2 separate regions of the Homo sapiens genome follow, and region 1 is linked to region 2. Evidence: fine-mapped expression QTL. A gene starts in region 2. The other region holds a variant in brackets. All regions are shown on one strand. Distances are from middle to middle.

Region 1 (4,396 bases), 840 kb after region 2:
GAGCTCTCTCCACAACATAGTAGATGGGATCCCGAAATTTTATCTTGTAAAATATGGGGGTCATATTATTGCAAGTAAATGAAATATAGTAGGTGGTTTTGTGTTTTGTTTTGTTTTTAATATACTGTTACAAAAAGCACAAAGCAATGACAGTGAAGTTTAAACTGGACACAATTGTAAACCTTAAAAGACCCAAATGATCTTGAAGCAATTACTTCCTATCCATTCCCATAAGAACTTTAGCTTGCTCTTGTCTGAGAAGTGGGCAAGGGTAGACAACTGGAGGCAATCAGCAATCCTTTTACATCCAAATTTGTACACATTGTATTGTGGCAGGGTGTTATTGTACTTGATTGTGTCCCAAAGACATGGCAAGAACAGTCTTTTATAGTTGTGTTCTTTTGTGCCAAAGTTCTGGGAATATAGTAAATGCTCAGTGTTTATCCATTTTTCTTTCTGCCTTTCCATCCAACCATCCATTCATCCATTTATCCCCTGCAGTGTTCACAAGTGCTCACTAAATAATTATTGGTTCATTAACTAAAGTGAAGAACAGCATGTGAGTACATTTTGGCATTGGGGTCTTTTATTTTAGTAGTGTTCTTGAAATGCTGGGAAAACTTTCCAAGGATTGCATGGGATAATTTTAAGAGAATCAATTTCCAGGTCCGCAACTTCAGTATATTCTCTGCCCTTCTTCCTAAAACTGATCTGCCTAGAAGACTGCTGCCATTGAGCTTGCTTGCTTTTTCTTTTCTTTCTTCCTTTCTTTCTTTCTTCCTTCCTTCCTTTCCTTCCTTCCTTTTCTTCCTTCCTTTCTTCCTTCCGTCCTTTCTTCCTTCCTTCCTTCCTTCTTTCTTTCCCTTTCTGTCTTTCTTTCCCTTTCTTTCTTTCTTTCTTTCTTTCCTTCTCTCTTTCTCTTTCTCTTTTTTTATTTCCTCCCTTTCTCCCTCTTTTTCTTTCTCTCCCTCTCTTTCTTTCTTTCTTTCAGACAGGGTCTTGCTCTGCTGTCCAGGCTGGAGTGCAGTGGTGTAATCACAGTTCACTGTAGCCTTGACCTCGTGGGCTCAAGCAATACTTCCACCTCAACCTCCTGAGTAACTAGGTCTACAGGCACCCACCACCATGCCCTGCTAATTTTTTAACTTTTTGTAGAGGGGTCTCACTGTGTTGCCCAGGCTGGTCTTGAACTCCTAGACTCAAGTGATCTTCTCGCCTTGGTCTCCCAAATTGCTGAGATTACAGGCATAAGCCACCATGCCCAGCCTTCCTTCTCCACTTTATAAAAGAAAAGAACATTTCTCACCCACCTCTAAGGTGTAAGTACTTCCAAGATGCCAAACAAAGGATCAATTAGATAATTTCTTTTATCAAATTTTCATAACTTATTTCCTCTCTATCCTTCTCATTAGGAGATACAGTCCCAATAAATTTTACTTTTTGTATTTGGTAATTATTGATCAAATTATAATATACCTATATTGTTTTACTCAATTGTATGTTAATAATTGTAATGCTAATTCAATCCAGAAGAAAACACATTTTGACACATAGCACTTCATGTTAACAAAAGTAACTATATTTTATTGGGTTTTTTTTTTTTTTTTTGCTGCAGATACATATAATGGGATGAACAATAGATGACTCAAGCATACAAGAGTACTACATTAGGAGAAAATTCCATGGGGGTAGTGAAATGGAAATAGAAGTTCAAAGAGAAATTTCCTGACTTTCTTGAAAAGCTTACTTATGTATTTTTAAATTCATGATGGAGTAAATTAAATCACAAATATGTATATATTCCTAAGTAGATACATTTGAAAGGGTGTGGTAATGGTTTAAACTATCATTATTTACAATACACAAACTGTATTCTTTTGTTTAAAAATAGTTAAACTCATGATGAAAAATTATAGATGTCAACTTAGTATGTACTTAATGTCCACTATGTATAAGAGAGATATATAATTTTTCAAAATTCTTTTGAGGATGCTTGAGCAAAAAATTTGAAAAATGCCAACCACTATTATATGAAGTTTACAAAATATAACACAGAGGTGTCTTTAAGCCTGAGCCTATTTAAAGGCCTGAGGCAGAGATTCTCAACCTGAGATCTCAGGGTTTGAGAAATCAATCAATAGTATGTGAAATTTCGTGTTTATGGGCATGTGTACCTTTTTCTGGGCAAAGAGTACAGTTCTCAAAGATGTTCACAACCTAAAAAAGATTAAAAAGATCTGACCAAAGCATGTAAAGTCTTAAGAAACTTGACTTTGCTGTTTTCATAATAGTTTCATATGCACTGGCATGTGGAATTGCTTCCAACATAAACAATTTTGGTTCAGTTGTTTGTATATAAAATAATACTAATTATGAAAAATAATGAAAGATTCAATCTCCCTTTCTTCATCATCATCCTGAAATCTATGTCAATCTTTTAATTTTATTCCTTGCTTATTCAGAGGCCTTTTCTTTTCTTAATTTTGATGGAGAAAATTACAGGTGCTTCATCCATAGAAAAATGCTGAATGGAAATGTGGAAAAC[A/G]GTTTTTAAAAGAATAGACATCATCTGCCCCTGACAGTTGTGTCTTGCGGTTTCTTCCAGGATCTAATCAGCAGTCTAGCAATAGGTTGACATAGTATTCAGGCTTAGAATTAGGAAAATTACATTTGGAAGTGACTAATAACACAGTACTTTCAAAGCTTTGGATTTTAAAGCGTCACACACACAGCAGGTGAATGAAGATGTCAGAGCCAGGCCTAAAGGAGCACCCTGGTAATCCAGCCCTTGGTGTATAACCTTCAAACACCAATAAACAAGATTATCTGGGTTTAACATGTGACCTTTCTCATTTTGACTGGTAGGTCCAGATGTTTTCTCGTTTAGCTGCCTGGTTGAAATCTGCTTTAACTGACTGCATTTGGATCTAGATTTGAGGTTGCAGGAATGACAGTCTTGAAAACTACATTCTGCACTGGGTGATACTGTCTAAACAGTAACATATGGAGACCTATGGTTTAATAACTAAAAATAATTTGTGACCTTACCCTTAATAGATTTGCTAATTATGTCAACTGAATAAGTAAAAATGGGATCACGATAGATATTTCACTATATTCATCAGTCTGGTGGCATTAAAGACATTGACAAGATGTGTTAGAACCAGCCTTTTCTGCACCTGCGTCTACAGAAGCAAAAATCTCAGCCAGGGCCTTTGTTATCCTTTCTTACTCCTTAAGTAATTTCATAGCAGCCCTTGAGAAAATAGGAAAGGCTCTTTGTTAACTTCTGTTAAGTCAGCCTAGGCTGTGGTCATACCTCCCATCCACCGACATTTGAACAAACACTACTTAATGGTCCATTATTACTCTTTTCATTACTTGGAGCCCAGAACTCTCTCTTGCATTTTTATATGACCTATTCCTTACTTACCATCAGCTTGATTTTCCGGTTCTAGTCCTTCAGGTTGTACTAGTTCTCTCTCTCTCTCAGACTGTAAAGAAAAGATAATTCTTTATTTTCTTATTTTGTCTTACGAGAGAACTCACATTCCTGAATGAACCCTCAGTGAACTTCCCCAGGTGCATTTATATCACTGCTGCTTTGCAGTCCAGAGATAGTGCTCATTAACTAATTAATAACCACAGCCTAGTAAAACACACTAAATTATTAACAGAACAGAAAGTGAGACAGTATGGTCCATAAAAGCACAAAATATAACAAAGAAGTAATATATCCTTATGTATCTGGATCCTTATGAATTTTAGCCCAATTTAGAAAGAGCAAAAATCAGTAGTTAGGTATTTGTCTGAAATCGATAATAAAATAACTAAGTATGGGAAATGTCCAATCAGGCCAACTCTTTTATACTTGATTTTTTAACCTTCCTTTCCTACTGTCAAGTAGCGGGTGCCCTTGTGTTTTTCAACAAGCTAATTCTTGTTAATTTTGTTGAAAGGGAATGAAATCAGTTGTACAGGAACAAAAGGAGTTAAAAATAGTCTTCTGAGCATTTGTCATATGGAAGTAATCATAGCTCAGAAACTATACTTACCATGATGCTTCTTGTAATCATTGGTGAATGGGTAGCTAAACATTCCCATTTTGAGACAGAGTCAGTATCAGAGTCAGTATCAGAGCTATCAATTTTATTTTGTTTTGTTTATCTGTATAGATTTCTTTTTAAAACAGCTTTAATGTGGTTATAATTTACATACTTTAAATGTTCAATTCAATGACTTTTCTAGTAAATTTACAGAGCTGTACAACTACCACCATGTTTTAGAACATTTCCATCACCCTAAAAAACCCTTTGTACTTGTTTGTAGTTGATCCCCATTCTTGCCTGCAGCCTCAGGCAACCACTAATTATTTCTGTCTCTAAAGATTTACTGT
Region 2 (4,396 bases):
TTCTTCAGAGGACTGCCTAGAGACAACACACAGCGCCTCCCCAGCACTGCACTCGCCCAATCCTCCCACCATAATCCCAAAGGCAGGGAAGAAACCAGGCTGGAGTTGCTGGACGAAGCCAGAAAAAGAATGTACTGAAATCCCTTCTGAGGCCTTTGTGTATCGTACTTTAATCCTTTACATGTCTCTGATGGATATATACATATATATATATATAATTTTTTTTTTTTTGAGACAGAGTCTCGCTCTCTCGCCCAGGCTGGAGTGCAGTGGCGCCATCTCCGTTCACTGCAAGCTCCGCCTCCCGGGTTCACGCCATTCTCCTGCCTCAGCCTCCCCAATAGCTGGGACCACAGGCGCCCGCCGCCACGCCCGGCTAATTTTGTTTTTGTATTTTTAGTAGGGACGGGGTTTCACCGTGTTAGCCAGGATGGTCTCGATCTCCTGACCTAGTAATCTGCCCGCCTCGGCCTCCCAAAAGAGCTGGGATTACAGGCGTGAATATTTTTTAACAAGCAATTTCATGTACATTTTCTCAAGCACCACTCAAGCTGCCTGTCCACGGGGCAGACGACTTCTCCTTTAGTCTTTCTCTTGAATATGCTCTTCAATTTCATTAATCTCTATTCATGAGTATAACAATATTGGAAAAATTGGACAGAGTATCACTTGTTCCTCGCTTTGCAGACTAGAGATGCTTCTAGTCCCTGTTGGCACACTCAGGATGGGGGCTACGGGAAGCCCAAGAATTCAGCCTCTCTCTAAATGTCAACTGTTTTCCAGTAACCACAGGTCAGGGATCCCATACGTTCATTCTCCCTCCACAGTGACCCACAATATCCATCGGGTGTTTATGTATCCAAAGAAGAGGCTACTCATTCCATCTGGTAAACCAACATACTCATGATTTAGTGGAAAGAGCCCTGGAGTGGCACAGAGGGCTGCCTCAATACACACTTACTGAGCGTCTAACAATGAATGGGTCAAGCCCTTCGTAGGCACTGGCAATGGGAAGATGACCAATACAGACGGCTGAACCTTGCTTTCAAGGCCTTCATAAAGCACTGGAGATGACAAACACGGTCCGATACAAAGGGTCGGGTTCAGGACTCCAACCATTATTATCAAAGAGCCACGGGAATACAAAGGAAGGATTACTAGGGGGGAAGTTCCAGGAGGGCATCACAAAGAGACCTCTGAGCTGGATCCAGAAGGACAGATGAGTTTAAGCTGAAAGTGGGGACGGTCGTTCCCGCTGGTGGGAACCGAAGGAGCCGAGGCAGCGCTGAGGCGGAGACCAGGTGGCACCCGCGGCGCTGCAAGGACACACAAGCTGTTGCGAGGGGGTCAACTCTCCGGGCCTTGGCTTAGAAACCTGGGACGATTACACCCTAAAAGCGCTTGGAAAAACTGCAGAACTCGTGCTGATTTTCGCCAAAGCTACTCCCCCGCCGTGAGGGCAGGAAGCCCTGCGAGGCGCCTGCGAGGACGCAAACGCCGCGAAGCAAGTCCTCCACGCCTCCATCCCAGGTTTAGTGAAGTGTAGACTCTGACCCACAGCCTAAAGGAAAGCAAGACCGGAGTCGGGGAGGGCCCCTCCAGGAGCGGGCTCAGCGGGAGTCTGGCCGAACTGCTTGCTGCCACAGTGGTTCCGCGGCCTCGCGCTGAGCGCCATCCGCCGTCTCCCACCGCGGCCCCCACCGCCCCTCCGCAAGGCTCGGCACCTCCCGCCACTTCCTCGGTCGCTGCGGCGGCTCCGGCTCCTCACAGCCGCTAAACCCAGGCCTATTCTGTGTTAGGTCGGGCCTCCTCGGCCCTCTTCGCCGTGACGAATCAGCGCCCGGCTGGGAAAGTATCAAAATTCGGGGAGTTTTGAGGATCCAATGGGTCCTGAAAAAAATCCCTGAGTGTGCTAAGCATCACCGCATCTTCACTAGAAGGTTAGTTTTTCTAAAGAGGGTCGGGTGGGGCCCGGAAAAAAAAAAAAATTAAGAAGAGTGTGGAAAGTGCGAGTGCGGAAGCTCCGGACGCGAGGGGCGGGGCGAGCGCGGGACAAAGGGAAGCGAAGCCGGAGCTGCGGGCGCTTTTTCTGCCCGCGGGTGAGTGTTTCCAAGTGGGACGGACCGGGTCGGTGGGTGCAAGTCGTGGTGTCCCCGCTTGGCTAGACCCCGAGTTCCCGGGGGTTGCTGGGGTTCAGCCTTGGCCGTGGGGCCAGAGCCAGGAGCCGGTTGAGGCCTCCTTGAGGCCTAGCAGAGCGAGGGTTGGGAGGGAGTCCCATCTGGGGCCCCCTCCTTGGAGGCAAGGCCAGTCCCCCGAAATTGGTCAAAGCACCTGTGAATACCCCGTTTTAGGGGAGTTGCTAGTAAAGTACATTCTCCAAGACAAAGAGAGCGACCTCAGGAAGCCGTGGGCAAGGCAGGTCCGTGGTTCACCCCCCACCCGGGCAGAAGGTTCCCCCATTGGTTCAGGCAGCGACTTGAGGACGAGCAGAGCTCTGAAATAGTTTGGCCTGGGTTTGAAACCCAACTTTGGCACTTCCTGGCTGCATATGGCTTCAGACAAGTTGTTTAAACTTTCCGAGACTCCCTTGTTTCATCTGTAAAATGGGGATAGCTGTACATATAAAGTACTTGTGAGTGTTAAGCGAAATAGTGTCATAAGCGTACCCCGTATAAAGTATTTCTTGAACAAATATTTATCGGGTATTTATTTTTATGCCAGGCACCAAAGATGGATCCAACGGTGGACAAATGTACAAGCCCACTCTTAAATTTTGTATTCTAGCAAAAGAGAGCAATAATTTTAAAGTATTAACAATGAAGTATAACGTACAGGGAGCTTATGTTAGTTGTCAGGGTCCCCTGCAGCGAGGCCTGCTGGATGTTGACAGCTCCCTTAATGTGAGCAGAAAGGAAATCTACACCAGAGTCAAAGGTTTCTGGCTGTTCTTTAAGAGGGAAAGACTCAGGTTGGACCATTGAGAAAATGAGCTGTTTCTTTCCACACCAGGACTCATTCCTTATGCTCCAGGGAATTTCCTTAAAATTAATAATAGAAGCGAAAAATCAGATCTATTCCACATGTTTGGTTGCAAATACCTCCAATAGTCATAGAAGTTTATTTGCCTTCTTTCCAAAGATGAATTTTTGTCTTTTTGTACCTCACTATTTGTGATGTATGTTGATGTAAAGAACAAGCTCACATGTGCCTGGTTATGTTGTGAGCTGGTAATACTAGGAAAAAATTTCCTAAGAATTGAGCTAGGTCCTGACATGGTCCCTCTTTCCAAGTAGCATACAATCTAGCCATATTGATAAGTTAAAAAAAAGTTATAATAATATAGATCTGTGTAAACTGTATAGGAATACAGATGGGGGAGCAGTTAATTCTGCCCAGGTAATGTATCAAGAAAGTTCCCTTGAGGAGAAAAATTTTGAAATGGGCTGTGAATGATGAATAAAAGTTTTTCAGGTAGACTCTCAAAATTTATTCCCAGCATTTATGAAGCTATTTACCATTATAAGAGAATGTGAAGTTCATTGTCATACCAATTACCTTTTGCACTGCTTCCAGGAATAAAATGCTGCCTAATTTTAATAAAAATTGTTATCCCAAAAGCATGATACAGTTGCTGATCAGGGAGCTGTCAGTATCTGGTAGGCCTTGTTGCGTTGGACCCTGATAATACATCACTTTCTATTCTCATCCTTGTATCAGTCTGATGAAATGTTTACATGGCGTCAGCAAAATGTTTTCCATACAAGAGGTAGCTTAGTATCACAAGAAAAAACCTGAAAGTACATTTCTAAATATCCCCAGTACTTTATTTTAGTCATTTAATTCTAATCAACCAAATGACCTATAAGAACTAGTTAAAATACACAAAAGGCTTAATTACTAGGAATTAAGGTGAAGTAATTTTACTCAGAAATACCAATTAAATTACCCTATTCATTAGGAAAACATTCTCGTATGCTTGCTGAGTTTTGATTCTCTTTTTTTTTTCCTTTTTTTTTTATTTTAGTGTCTCAGATTCATTCTTAAGGAACTGAGAACTTAATCTTCCAAAATGTCAAGTAAGTTTCAATTTTTATATTTATCAATCTATGTTAATAAGAGACTAATGCCCTAGCAAGTGGGAATTCCAAAATACTCTCATTTTTTTTTCTTCAAAACAGGACCATTGGTAGTTTTGTTGCATAGTATTATATCTCAGTTGTTTACAAGAAGTTATTTATTTTCTTTCAAACAGAAAGACCATCTTATGCCCCACCTCCCACCCCAGCTCCTGCAACAGTAAGTTTTAATTTTCTTGTTAATGTAATAGCCAACTCTGGCCTTGATACAAAAACCCAGATGTCTTCCAGTGACAGTCACTCAATCATCACAGCAACAG

Evidence for each region. PIP is the estimated chance that this variant, and not a neighbour inherited with it, causes the effect.
Region 1: its variant is the best candidate, but not a certain one, in a credible set for the expression of SMARCE1 in putamen (GTEx, PIP 0.67).

The regions. Positions count from the first base shown.
Region 1 is chr17:39,807,829-39,812,224 of GRCh38, reverse strand. All of the region lies in intron 3 of IKZF3 (IKAROS family zinc finger 3), which reads left to right. Among named protein-coding and RNA genes, the nearest start is that of IKZF3, 54 kb to the left of the region's middle. The variant A/G (reference allele first, on the strand shown) is at 2,546.
Region 2 is chr17:40,645,476-40,649,871 of GRCh38, reverse strand. SMARCE1 (SWI/SNF related BAF chromatin remodeling complex subunit E1) reads left to right here and starts at 2,054. Exons shown (of 11, transcript NM_003079.5): 1 at 2,054-2,099; 2 at 4,025-4,076; 3 at 4,253-4,296. The coding sequence starts at 4,070. RefSeq lists a silencer at 1,521-1,815.